4 linked regions of the Homo sapiens genome follow. The protein of the gene in region 1 purifies or fractionates together with the protein of each later gene. This does not show direct contact. Each region holds a gene or a part of one and is shown in the gene's direction. Other genes may lie near its edges.

Region 1 (3,500 bases):
ACAGAAGTAAAAGAACAATATTTGTTCTACTTTTGATGCAAGATTTATCTGGCATAATGCATTGAACAGTTTATTATTGAAGTCTACACGAGTCAATGGAACAAGCATTCATTGAATGTCCATGATATGCAGGACATAAGAAGGTTTCCTTTTAGAGCATGGAGCCATTTATATCATCTCTTAATTGTTAGATGTATTTTGTTTTGTTTTGTTTTGTTTTTTGAGAGGGAATCTTGCTCTGTTGCCCAGGCTGGAGTGCAGTGGTGCGATCTCCGCTCACTGCAACCTCCCGCCTCCTGGGTTCAAGCAGTTCTCCTGCCTCAGCCTCCCTGTAGCTGGGATTACAGGTGCCTGCCACCATGCCCAGCTAATTTTTGTATTTTTCGTAGAGACAGGGTTTCACTATGTTGGCCAGGCTGATCTCAAACTGCTGACCTCAGGTGATCTGCCCACCTCGGCCTCCCAGAGTGCTAGGATTACAGGCATGAGCCACCGCGCCCAGCCTGTTAGATGTGTTTTAAAATAAATAGAAATATAATTGATTTTCTTGCTTGCTTTTGCTCTGGAGTGGAGTGGAGTGAGGATAAAACAGAATGGAATCACCCTGTTGATATTTACTAAGATAGAAGGACTGCAGCAAGATCATAGCCCTAATCTTCCTGTAGCAAGTGTTACCTGCTAGCTGTTCCTGAATACACTGAGTTTTGCTTTTTCCTAGCTCTAATGAATGTTTCGTTCTTCCTCTTTTTGTACAGTGTCAGCATTGTTTTAGAAATAAATACATTCTAGAATCTTAGGAATAATTTTATTATTGTCTTTTTTTTTTTTTGAGACGGAATCTCATTCTGTTGCCCAGGCTGGAGTGCAATGGCGCAATCTCAGCTCACTGCAACCGCTGCCTCCTGGGTTCAAGCGATTCTCCTGCCTCAGCCTCATGAGTAGCTGGGACTACAGGCGTGCGCCATCACGCCTGGCTAATTTTTGTATTTTTAGTAGAGATGGGGTTTCACCATGTTGGCCAGGCTGGTCTCAAACTCCTGACCTCAAGTGACCCGCCTGCCTCGGCTTCCCAAAGTGTTGGGATTACAGGTGTGAGCCATTGCACCTGGCCACGAATCTTAGAAATAATTTTGGCCATAGGAAAAGGAAAAGTTATACCTCTTATTTTATAGTAATAATGTTTAATAATCAAGTTATTAAACCCATTAAATTGAGAACACTTGTATTACTGTTATTTTGACAGTAAAGGAAGAATGGTATGCCAGAATCACTAAATTAAGAAAGATGGTGGATCAGCTTTTCTGCAAAAAATTTGGTAAGTCTGTTTTTTTTAATTACCCCTTCAACTAAAATGTATTACTGAGTAACATTTTTTTAAATGTTGTTTTATTTTAGGAAAGTAAATACAGTGAATAGGACTCAGCTTTAGTTTTCCCTGTTTTTTTTTTTTGGGTTTTTTTTTTTTTCTTGAGAAGGAGTCTTGCTCTGTTGCCCAGGCTGGAGTGCAGTGGTACGATCTCAGCTCACTGCAACCTCCTCCTCCCGGGTTCAAGCAATTCTCCTGCCTCAGCGTCCCAAGTAGCTGGGATTACAGGTGCCCGCCACCACGCCTGGCTAACTTTTGTATTTTTAGTAGAGATGGGGTTTCGCCATGTTGGCCAGGCTGGTCTCAAACTCCTGAATTCAGGTGATCCACCCGCCTCAGCCTCCTAAAGTGCTGGGATTATAGGCGTGAGCCACCGCGCCCGGCCCCCATTCTATGAATTATCTGTGGAAAGTTATTTCCTTTAAAATGGCATGCTCGTGAGGTTGAAGGGGTAAAGAACATTGATCTGGTTGCCACGCAGATGAAAGTGTAGTCGGAAATGTGTTACCAGTTTGCCATAGCCGATGGAGGAGGGTAATTACGGTCCTGAACAGTTAGTAGCAAAAGGCTGCTTCCAGATAGTATTTAGGTTGTGTCCTCTATTGTCCATGATGATTTTCTTTCTCTCTTTTCTTCCTAAGGATATTGAAAAACAAACTTTAATCTTTTAAAGATCTCAGAGCTATTAAGATTGTCTTAGGACCAGGACACTTAAATCTGCCCAAATCTGGCTGTTGATGATCGGTCATCTCTACTTGTCTTTGCTGTATTAAGTCTATTCAATAGTTAATAAATATGTTTCTAGAAAGAGTTTTTTTCAAGTAAAACAAAATTGACCTGTGCCTTTCTTTGGATTGTACTAAAATCTGATTTCAATACAAATGTAGTCTCCCGAATTGCTTTGATTTTTGTCCAGCGGAAGCCTTGGGGAGCACTGAAGCCAAGGCTGTACCGTACCAAAAATTTGAGGCACACCCGAATGATCTGTACGTGGAAGGACTGCCAGAAAACATTCCTTTCCGAAGTCCCTCATGGTATGGAATCCCAAGGCTGGAAAAAATCATTCAAGTGGGCAATCGAATTAAATTTGTTATTAAAAGGTAAGATGATAATCTGTAGAAATAGTTTCAGTGTCTTCCCTGAGAAGAGGTTAATTTGATGAAGAAGGGCCTTTTGTTTACCTTATGACTTATTTCTATTGACAATGAAGGCATTAATATTTAGATTCACTTAGTGAACAAATATTAGTATAAGCATCAGATGTGCAAAATTGGGTCTAACAAGAACACTGTCCTTGGGGCCTTCATACAAAGAAAAATGCACTGAAGGCCGGGCGCGGCAGCTCACGCCTGTAATCGCAGCACTTTGGGAGGCCAAGGCAGGTGGATCACTTGAGGTCAGGAGTTCAAGACTAGCCTGGCCAACATGATGAAGCCCCATCTCTAGTAAAAATACAAAAATTAGCTGGAAGCGGTGGTGCAAGCCTGTAGTCCCAGCTACTCGGGAGGCTGAGGTTGGAGAATCACTTGAACCCTAGAGGCGGAGGTTGCAGTGAGCCGAGATCGTGCCACTGCACTCCAGCCTGGGCAACAGAGCGAGACTCCATCTCAAAATAATTAAAAAAAAAAAATAGAAAAATGCAATGAAGTGTTATTGAGCGTTTTTAAGGGAGAAGGCAAGGATGGCACACCCAGCTCGGTCACTTGTGCATCCAGAAGAGATGGAAGGTGTTTCAAGTGAAGGAAATCATATGAGTAGGGGGAGGAGGTGGCAAATATGCCTGCGTATCCACAGAACTCACCCACCGTGTGTGGAGTGAGGACTGCCACGTGGGCGTGGTGGGGTTGCATGGATCGACTTGGGTGGGCAAGTGGAGGAAGGCCTGAGATCCTACGAACACAGAGGCAGTCACGAAGTGGTCTCGAGGCAGATGCCTCTGAAAATAATGTGGATCCGCCCTTTAGAAAGGTAATTCTGGCTTGATTTTGAAGGATAACACAATGGTTAGTTTGGGTGCGGGGTTAGGAACAGAAGGCCTCTCTCCACTCATTGACGGGATGTGGAAGGGTAAACCTTCCTTACTGATTGGGGTCATGCCTCTGTGTGTTTGTTGGGACTGAGTTATAAGGGATAG
Region 2 (3,500 bases), on another chromosome or scaffold:
AACCAATCAGAAGTTTGTATTTGATTACAATTTGAGAATTCAAAGAACATATCTGAAGAAATAGCACTGAAAATAAAGATGGGCGAATTCTTAATACTGTGTAAGTAAATGTTTCATGTTCCTTTGTTAGATCCCAAGCAGTATTGAAGATATATTTAATGATGATCGCTGCATAAATATCACCAAACAGGTAACAACAACAAAAGTAAAAACATTGCTGCTAAAACTTTGGGTCAAAGTAAAACGCCACTTAATGTTAATTTTTTCTTATTCTTTTAGACTCCATCATTTTGGATTTTAGCTCGTGCCTTAAAGGAATTTGTGGCCAAAGAGGGTCAAGGAAATTTACCTGTTCGAGGCACAATTCCTGATATGATTGCAGATTCAGGCAAATATATAAAACTGCAAAACGTGTATGTCACTGTTTTCAAACTATGTAATAGAAAAAGTCTGATTATATTAGAGATAAACATTTTATCATCCTGTCAGAAATCAAATGAAAGTTTATTACAACCTCATTGCTTATAAATAAACTAGGCCAGCTGCAGTGGCTCATGCCTGTAATCCCAACACTTTGGGAGGCCAAGGTGGGAGAATTGCTTGAGTCCAGGAGTTTGAGACCATCGTGGGCAACATAGTGAGACTTCCATCTCTACAAATTGAAAAATTAGGTGGGCATGGTAGTGTTCGCCTTTAATCTCAACTACTCAGGAGGCTGAGGCAGAAGGATCTCTTGAGCTCAGGAGTTTGAGGCTGCAGTGAGCCATGATCATGCCACTTCACTTCAGCCTGGGTGACAGAGCAAGACCCTGTTTCAAATAAATAAGTAAAAATAAGCTGAAGAACTTAGACCAGGCTGGGCGCAGTGGCTCACACCTGTAATCCCAGCGCTTTGGGAGGCCGAGGCAGGCGGATCACGAGGTCAGGAGATTGAGACCATCCTGACTAACACGGTGAAACCCTGTCTCTACTAAAAATACAAAAAAATTAGCCGGGCGTGGTGGCAGGCGCCTGTAGTCCCAGCTACCCGGGAGGCTGAGGCAGGAGAATAGCGTGAACCCGGGAGGCGGAGCTTGCAGTGAGCGGAGATCGCACCACTGCACTCCAGCCTGGGCGACAGAGTGAGACTCTGTCTCAAAAAAAAAAAAAAAGAACTTAGGCCGGGCGTGGTGGCTCACGCCTGTAATCCCACCACTTCGGGAGGCCGAGACGGGTGGATCACAAGGTCAGAAGATCAAGACCATCCTGGCCAACATGGTGAAACCCTGTCTCTACTAAAAAAATACAAAAAATTAGCCAGGTGTGGTGGTGCGCACCTGTAGTCCCAGCTATTCGGGAGGCTGAGGCAGGGGAATCGCTTGAACCCAGGAGACGGAGGTTGCAGTGAGCCAAGATCGTGCCACTGCACTCCAGCCTGGAGACAGAGCAAGAGTCCGTCTCAAAAAAAAAAAAAAAAAAAAAAAGAACTTAGGGGGCAATTCTTGTTAAGCTCAAAGCAAAATTGAATGGGAAATACAGAATTACCACATACGCCTAGGAGGCAGAGTTTTTTTTCATACTTCATGATAAACTTAATATTTGATCCCTTAACTCTGTGCTATGAACTATATGTATTAAGTAATTTAACACACACACAAGGTTCACAACGACCTTATGAGAGAGAGAGAGACTGTTACCGGCCCCATTTTACACATGAAGAAACTAAGGTATTGAAAAGGTTACTTATACAAGGTCAGATAGCTGGTAAATGGCAGAACCAAGATTTGAACCCCAGGAAACCCAGTACCAGAGCCTGTATGCTTAGCTATGGCCCTATACTACCTTGTATTTGTAACTTAAAACCATGAAGGTTTGATGAATTTTTTATCTTAATGTTTCATAAGTTATAGTCTATGACTATAGCTAGACATCTTGCTATCCAGGTATCACTAGCCTGAACCCAGATAGACTATCACAGGGATGGGTCTCAATGAATATGACCCTCGTATAGTTAGGGCATGGTGCAAAGAATCCAGGTCTGCTGGCTCGGTTTCTTTGGGGTCCAAGTAATGTCACACAGAGATGATCTCTCTTCCCCAGACAGATTTCACTCTTTATCATGTCACCATTGAACGAATCTTGGTTTGTTGTCCTAGCCTAAGAGTTCAACTACTTAAAACTTGGGGAAGGTCAATTGAGGATAGAAAGAAGTATGACCTTACATGGGAGGTAGTCAGCCTGAACACTGATGATTTTTAGAGGGTGAAAGGTAAATAGACGTAAAGAAAACTTTTATGGCCGGATGCAGTGGCTCACACCTGTATTCCCAGCACTTTGGGAGGCCAAAGCGGGTGGTGAAATGTGCCACAAGGGATGTTCACAGTTGTTTTAAATGGTTGAAATTTTACGTTTTCCATGGTCTGTCTCAGTGGTATAGATACAGATAATAATTGGGTAAGGGTTTTTTTTTCCTCTCATAATAAATACAGAGTATTTTAAAACAATCAGAGGTAGAGCATGTTTATCTATGGCAATGCTAAAAAGGTATGAAGGTCAGTTAATTGAAAATTGTCATTAATACAGTATTTTCAGTTTCTAAATCACTTGAACCCAGGAGTTCAAGACCAGCCTGGGCAACATGGTGAAACTCCGTCTCTACAAAAAAGACAAAAATTAGTCGGGCATGGTAGCGTGTGCCTGAATTCCCAGCTACTTGGGAAGCTGAGGTGGGAGGATCAGTTGAGCGTGGGAAGTTGAGGCTGCAGTGAGCCAGGACTGCGCCACTGTACTCCAGCCTGGGTGGCAGAGCGAGATCCTGTCTCAAAAAACAAAGAAGTTTTACATTGGAGATGAACAGTTTTAATGTATTTAACTTTCCTTGGACTTGACTTCCAGGAGATAAGTCATGTTCTTCAGTAATGTATTTTTTCAGGTCCTCTGTCACAGAAGCCGAAATCATAGATCCCTCTAGGGGAGCAGTTTTTAAGTTGGGTGCTGTTAGAGGGACCCTGGGTTTTAGTGGGCACTGAGAGTCCGTCACTAACACTGGAAAGATTCCCAGCTACTCATGGTGCTGTTGATAGCATTTCCCTGGCATTTTCACATTTCATACATTGTCAGACCTGTGTTTTTTCATGAAAAGGAAAGAAAATTTTTGTTCATGGTAACAATTTAAATTTTGCTAATTTAAAAATTTGTTAGTAATTGCTTTTTATTCTTTTTTAGTTACCGTGAAAAAGCAAAGAAAGATGCTGCCGCTGTGGGTAATCATGTTGCCAAATTGCTGCAGTCCATTGGCCAGGTAAGCTACTGGGCACACTGTGCCCATACAGGCCTCAGCACGTAACTCCAGCCAGAAAGGGTTTAGAGACAGAGGGTGTGGCACTGCCTCTGTGCTTCTTTAGAGGGAGCTGTCATTTCCCTGCCTAATGGGATAGCTTGTGATAAGGAAACAAGATATTTTTAAAGTGCTCTCCCAGCTCTTGGAGAAAGCCTTCCCATCTCACAGTGATTGGCTTTGT
Region 3 (3,500 bases), on another chromosome or scaffold:
AGAAGAGCAAGACCAAAATTTGAACAGGTTAATCTGTTGGATTCTAATGCAGTTCATCACATCATTCATGATTTTCAGGTATGATTTAGGTTATTTTAAGATATACATGAACAATATTAAGAGTTGTCTGGATGATACAGAAACTATCCTTGCTCTCAAGGAAATTACTATGTTTGAAAGCTCTAAAGTTGTATTATGCAGTAGCATTTTTTTCATTTAGCATGACATGGTATATGTAAACCTTAAAGTTAAATTTTGACACGCTGACAAAGACAAATATGAGACATTTTATAAAATGCTTATGTTTATAGAGTGCCTTCTAAGTAATACTTTCTCTGCAAATGGTTTTCAAATGTTACTGTAAACCTCACAACACTGCAAAATAGTTATTTTCATTTTAGGGCTGAGGGAGCAGGCTCAGAGAGGTTTTCGGTATCATTGATACTATTCTCCCTTTGACATGGATTTATTAGATATTTAAATCATGTTAATTGCATAAATGATAGCTCTTTCCTTTTGTCCAAATTGGGGGATAAAACTTGTTTTGATTTAGAAAGACTTCTGTTTTGTTCTTGTTTTTGTGACGTAATCTTGGTTTGTTGCCCAGGCTGGAGTGCAGTGGTGCAGTTGAGCTCACTGCAGCCTCCGCCTCCCAGGGTTCAAGCAATTCTCCTGCCTAAGCTTCCTGAGTACCTGAGACTACAGGCATGCGCAACCACACCTGGCTAATTGTTGTATTTCTAGTAGAGATGGGGTTTCACCATGTTGGCCAGGCTGGTCTTGAACTCCTGACCTCACGTGATCCACCCACCTCAGCCTTCCAAAGTGCTGGGATTACAGATTTGAGCCACCGCGCCCAGCCTAGAAACATGGTTGTTTTATTTTCAGACAGGGTCTCACTCTGTAGCCCAGGGTGAAGTACGGTAGATCGATCACAGCCCACTGTAGCCTTGAATTCCTTGGCTCAAGTGATCCTTCTGCCTCGGCCTCCACAACAGTTAGAACTACAGGCTCATGCCACCACGACTGGCTGATTTTTAAATTTTTTTGTAGAGATTGAGTACCAACCACTATGTTGCCTAGTCTTATCTTGAACTCCTGGCCTCAAGCATTGTCTCACCTCAGCCTCCCAAAGTGTTGGGATTACATGCATGAACCGTCACACCAGAGTAGAAATACAGTTGTTGACAGTTTTTTTCCTGGTTTGTGTCTGCATATTATGAAATACTCTTTTCAGTGCCTATAAATATTTTAAGTTTGAACCTTGCGGGGAAAAGAAGCAGCATGACAAAACTACATTAGAAATTACAATGATTTATTCTTAGTTGAAAGAATGTTGACTTACTGCACATTTTTCTCTGAATTAACTTTAAGAAGGCTGTAATACCTCTTTCATTTTATTTTGAGTTAAAAATACGTCAATGCTTAACTTCTAGCCCCATGTTATAGTACATTGTGCAGCAGAGAGAAGACCAGATGTTGTAGAAAATCAGCCAGATGCTGCCTCTCAACTTAATGTGGATGCTTCTGGGAATTTAGCAAAGGAAGCAGGTAATGATGACTTTATAAAATTTTCATAAAATATTAAGTGATTGCTGAGTTTTTAGAAATTAAGGTTTTGTAGATGGTTATTTGTTTTTATATATCATGAAAAACCATTCTAAATTCCATGAAAGAGTAATGTCATGTAAACATTTAATAGATTTGTCTTCTTTTTTTGTAGCTGCTGTTGGAGCATTTCTCATCTACATTAGCTCAGATTATGTATTTGATGGAACAAATCCACCTTACAGAGAGGAAGACATACCAGCTCCCCTAAATTTGTATGGCAAAACAAAATTAGATGGAGAAAAGGCTGTCCTGGAGAACAATCTAGGTAAGACCTAATCTATTTAGCCCCTGATTGTTTTTGAAGACTTTAAAAATCATTTATACATACACATATATATGTTTTAAATTTAAAAAGTCAATGAATATGAATCATTAGAGAAAAATTAGAATATAGTTAATAAAGAAAATAAAAAATTCTAAGAGATAACTACTTTGTGAATCCTTCAAGACAGTTTCCACTATCAGTGTTTACATATTCATCTTTACACATAGAAAACAAGTCAGGTAATACAAGCTTTTGTAACTCATTTTCAAAAAACAGGGCAGTATAATTTCTCTTAGAGTGAGATATTCTGTTTATGTATTCTGTTATATGTATGTTACTGTGTTATATGTGTATGTATTTTGTTTTTATGTATTCTGTTATATGTATGTTGTATGTATTAACATTCTATTATGGTGTTTCTTTTTTCCTGTATGTGAGTTTGTGTATAACACACATCTCCATATATAAAAAGTATACACTCCTTAGAAAAAATGTAAAATTACTAAGAACAAAAGTTCTCATAAATGCTGCCTCAGGGAGATAAACACCAAATATGGTTAAGTGTGGAAGCATTTTTATATATTTTCAAAAAATGTATGCATGTTGTTTCACAACCTGTTTTTTTTCCCTCAACATCTTTGCATTTTAGTACACATGGAACCTACTCTGGGATATCTTACTCCTATCAGTGGCTGCGTAGTACTTAATTTAATGGTCCCCTGCACTAAAACTACTGCCTTAGACTGTACTATGGCCTTGAGAAGCAGCCCTAGTGTAGAATACCTTACTAATGGACATTTAGTTTTTTAAAAAGTTTTCTTGTATTATAAATTATTCTGTTGAAATCATCCTTGAATACATTTGTCTTAGTTTATTTCGTGCTGCTATAACAGAATACCAACAACTCAGTAATTTATAAAGAACAGAAATTTATTTCACACAGTTCTAGAGGCTGAGAAGTCCAAGATCAAGGTGAGGGTCTTTCTGGTCCTCTGGAGGGGAGGAATGCTGTGTTCTCACGGCAGAAGAGCAGAAAGGGATGTGCTTCTTCCTTCAAGTCCTTTTATAATGGCATTAATCCATTCATAAGAGCAGAGTGCTGATGACCACCTAAACACCTCCCAAAATGCCCCACCTCCCAGCACTGTTGCTTCGTGGATTAAGTTTCAACATGAATTTTTGGAGAGGACAAAAACATTCAAACCATAGCAGTATCTAAGTTCTCTTGTCATGTAATTTAAAAGAAAATGTTTGATTTGCAGTTAAAGTGTTAACTATTGTATACCATCAGCAGGGACCATTATAAAATCTAAATATTAATGAGTGGTTGTAAAACTAATGTGAACACTCATATACCCTTCACATAGATTCACAAATTGTTGATGTTTTGTCACATTTGTTTTATATGTTTGCTTTTGCCAGACCCATTGATAATTAGTTGAATTTCATCTCCAAATACTTTACCTTTCTTTTATCTTCTAACAAGAAGAATGTTCTTCACATAATTACAGTGCAGTTATCATACATTTGGAAACTTAACATTAATATGGTACTGTAATCAAATACAAATCTATTTAGGAATTTTCTCATTTATGCCAAAAATGTCCTTTATTGCTTTTATTTT
Region 4 (3,500 bases), on another chromosome or scaffold:
CAGGTTCCACATCCGTGACCAAACACAGACTGAAAATACAGTATTCTGCCTGTAATCCCAGCACTTTGGGAGGCTAAGGTAGGCGTATCTTCAGCCCAGGAGTTCAAGACCAGCCTGGGCAACATGGTGACACCCTGTCTCTACTAAAAATGTAAAAATTAGCCAGGCACAGTGGCATATACCTGTAATCCCAGCTACTTGGGAGGCTGAGGTAGGAAGATTGCTTGAGCTTGGGAGATGGAGGCTGCAATGAGCCGTGATTGCACCACTGCACTGCAGCCTGGTCTACAAAGCAAGTCCTTATCTCAAAAAAAATGAAAATAAAAAATTATTTGAGGATGTGAAATCTGTGTAGAAGGCTGACTGTAGGGGTGTGGAACTTGAGTATGCATAGACTTTGGTATCCATCCACAGGTGGTCCTGGAACCAATCCCCTAGAATACTGAGGATAACTCTAGTTGCAGTTACTAGTTTAATGAAGCTAATAAAACCATCTTTACCTTTCTTCGACAGTTAACTTAGATTTGGTTGAATCTCTGTTGTCATGATTGATTGCTTTGTGTATAGTATGTATATGTTCATCCTCGAGAGTGACATTTCGCGGATGTCTGTGCCTGCTCTGTGCATATTAAGTTTATATTTGGGTTCATTTTCAAAAGGAATATTTGTGGGCCATGTGCAGTGGCTCACGCCTGTAATCCCAGCACTTTAGGAGGCTGACATGGGCAGATCACCTGAGGTCAGGAGTTCAAGACCAGACTGGCCAACATGGTGAAACCCCCTCTCTACTAAAAATACAAAATTAGTTGGGCATGGTGGCACATGCCTGTAATCCCAGCTGCTGGGGAGGCTGAGGCAGGAGAATCGCTTGAACCCGGGAGGCGGAGGTTGCAGTGAACTGAGATAGCGCCATTGCACTCCAGCCTGGGCAACAAGAGTGAAATTCCATCTCAAAAAAAAAAAAGAAAAATATTTGTGAAGCCATAAGGTTTAGAACTGAAACATAGAATTTCATATAAAATATTATTTTATCCCAAATCACTTGCAGTACTTAGAAGAACACTGTGTCAGGGCTTGGCTATTATAGTCCCCTGGGGGACAGAAATACTTCAAAAATTCTTTTTCTTTAATTTGAATTCCAAAAAGTAGATGCTTGTATTCTAGGCTTTCTTATCACAGTTAACATCTTAGTTTTGTATGTGTTCTTTTCAAAGCTTTTATCCAGTGTGATATTACAAAGTAGATCATGTGTCAGAGTAATTTTTAATTTGGAAAAATACCTTTTAATGTTTAGTAAACCTAACTCAAAATGATTTGGTTAATTAGGTGCCAGTTCCTGTTTTTCTGCCTGCTCCATTGGACAGCAGTGAGAAGATTCCTGCAGCAATTGAGGAGCTAAAAAGCAAGGTTTCTTCAGATGCTCTTGATACAGAGTTGCTTACAATGACGGATATGATGAGTGAAGACGAGGGGAAAACAGAGACAACCAACATCAACAGTGAGCTACACTAAATTATACCTTGCGAATAAGTGTTAACATTGGTTATTTATAAGTATTGTTACAGTACTTTCCAGGGCATATCATTTTGTTTCAACTTATGTGGGGGTGAGGAAAGCATTGTAACAAAAATGTTTTTTATATTAAGAGATCTACACTGTATTTAGCCAGGTGCCCTCAGACAGATATCCGAAGCAGGAATTTGGTCTTTGGTCTCTGTTTTAAGCAGGATTTGACTTGTAAAATCAACTCAAAATTATTCTTGTTAATGGAGTAGTGCTGATGCAAAACTATAATAACTTGTAGTAGACTCTAATGATGATCAAAACTCTTATTTTGTAATAGTTATCCCTAGTTTTTTGTTTTGTTTTGTTTTTTTTTTTAGATGAACTCTTGCTCTGTTGCCCAGGGTGGAGTGTAGTAGCATGATCCCGGTTCACTGAGATCTCTGCCTCCTGGGTTCAAGCTATGCTTCTGCCTCAGCCTCCTGAGTAGCTGGAATTACAGGCACGTGCCACCACGCCCAGCCAATTTTTGTCTTTTTAGTAGAGACAGGGCTTCCCTATGTTGGCCAGGCTGATCTCAAACTCCTGACCTCAGGTGATCCACCTGCTTCCCAAAGTGCTGGTATTACAGGTGTGAGCTACCACACCCAGCCCCTAGTTTTCTTTTATTGCTTATACTAATAAAATAATTTGCATTATCTAAACCAGAGTTTATCTTAACCTCTGTTAGGGCAGTGCTTGCGCTACATGGTATAACGTGATGAGTGTGTTGTGGATGGTTCTAAGTCACTTAGAATATTTATTTTCCACCCTTAACCCTCTCTTGATACCCAAAGTCCTATTTCAACCTTGAGCTAATTCTTACCCTTACCCTAGAGGACAATCAAAATACTATAATTTTCTCTGGATTTAATAATGAGACAGTGTTTTTGAAGCACTGTGGTAAGGAGTTGTGAAATTAGTGGGTTGCAACCAGTGTTTTTGTTTAAGAAAAGAAAAAGCTAAGTGGAATAGGGTAAGAGAAATGACAGTGTGAATCCCTCATAGAAAGGGTAAGTATTATTTTGTGAAACCAGTGTGTATACAGATGTCTTTCTGTTCCCCACCATCACCTTGCAGTATGTGCTGGATAAAATGCATTTCTTGCCATGATTACAACACAAAAACACTTGAAAGCAACTGATCGAACCATTAAAAGGCAGTTGTTAATATGCATATATTGAACAATCTGAGAAACCTGGGTCAAAATTCAAAGAGTATTGAAAACTACAGTTGTCTACCCTCATTAGTTTATTTTTGACAAAAAGTTGCTTTTAGAAATACTTTACTTGTTGAAGTTGTTTTACTATCAAAGCATACCTATTAGCTTTTGAAGGGAGTCCTCCTGTAAAATTTATAGGATTAAAAGTTTTCATGTGCTTGTGACTAATTATGAGGTTTATAGTGGTTTACATTTTGAGATAGTTATATATATAATATGCCCTTTTCTTTTGTGACATTATACGTATTTTTTTATATTGCATTTAAAATTAAATGACTTGCTTTTGCCAGATTAAATACAGATACCATTGGGGTTTTCTGTTTTGATTCCTAATGATAATATGGATTGATTTCAGGTGTAATTATTGAAACAGATATAATTGGTTCAGACCTTTTGAAGAACTCTGACCCAGAGACACAGTCCAGCATGCCTGATGTACCATATGAACCAGATTTGGATATCGAAATAGATTTTCCCAGAGGTACTCAAAACCTTTATGACTATGGAATTTAGTTATGGAGTCAACTGTGGTTATGATCATTTACCATTTGATGTTTGTGTCATTGCCTTTTAGCAGTGTTCATATTTTTTATTCTTGTTATTTTTTAAACTCACCTTAAGAGTTAACTTCATATTTTGTTGTTGTTTTTTTTTAAAAACCCACCTTAACAGTTAACTTCTGGAATGAGATCACTTGAGTCCAGGAGTTCAAGACCAGCCTGGGCAATGTGGTGAA

The links. Proteins that work in one complex are often made in the same cells at the same time.
Region 2: the proteins of GTF2I (region 1) and NAE1 fractionate together in Homo sapiens (co-fractionation; one large-scale study listed by BioGRID). This does not show direct contact.
Region 3: the proteins of GTF2I (region 1) and MAT2B fractionate together in Homo sapiens (co-fractionation; one large-scale study listed by BioGRID). This does not show direct contact.
Region 4: the proteins of GTF2I (region 1) and ZMYM2 fractionate together in Homo sapiens (co-fractionation; one large-scale study listed by BioGRID). This does not show direct contact.

The regions. Positions count from the first base shown.
Region 1 is NC_000007.14:74,734,218-74,737,717, forward strand, and holds part of GTF2I (general transcription factor II-I), read left to right. Parts: intron 1-1,243; coding exon 1,244-1,315; intron 1,316-2,282; coding exon 2,283-2,466; intron 2,467-3,500. UniProt on the Homo sapiens protein: Interacts with the basal transcription machinery by coordinating the formation of a multiprotein complex at the C-FOS promoter, and linking specific signal responsive activator complexes.
Region 2 is NC_000016.10:66,810,477-66,813,976, reverse strand, and holds part of NAE1 (NEDD8-activating enzyme E1 regulatory subunit), read left to right. Parts: intron 1-130; coding exon 131-190; intron 191-279; coding exon 280-413; intron 414-3,204; coding exon 3,205-3,280; intron 3,281-3,500. UniProt on the Homo sapiens protein: Regulatory subunit of the dimeric UBA3-NAE1 E1 enzyme. E1 activates NEDD8 by first adenylating its C-terminal glycine residue with ATP, thereafter linking this residue to the side chain of the catalytic cysteine, yielding a NEDD8-UBA3 thioester and free AMP.
Region 3 is NC_000005.10:163,512,119-163,515,618, forward strand, and holds part of MAT2B (methionine adenosyltransferase 2 subunit beta), read left to right. Parts: coding exon 1-78; intron 79-1,436; coding exon 1,437-1,551; intron 1,552-1,723; coding exon 1,724-1,876; intron 1,877-3,500.
Region 4 is NC_000013.11:20,059,727-20,063,226, forward strand, and holds part of ZMYM2 (zinc finger MYM-type protein 2), read left to right. Parts: intron 1-1,326; coding exon 1,327-1,498; intron 1,499-3,119; coding exon 3,120-3,245; intron 3,246-3,500. UniProt on the Homo sapiens protein: Involved in the negative regulation of transcription.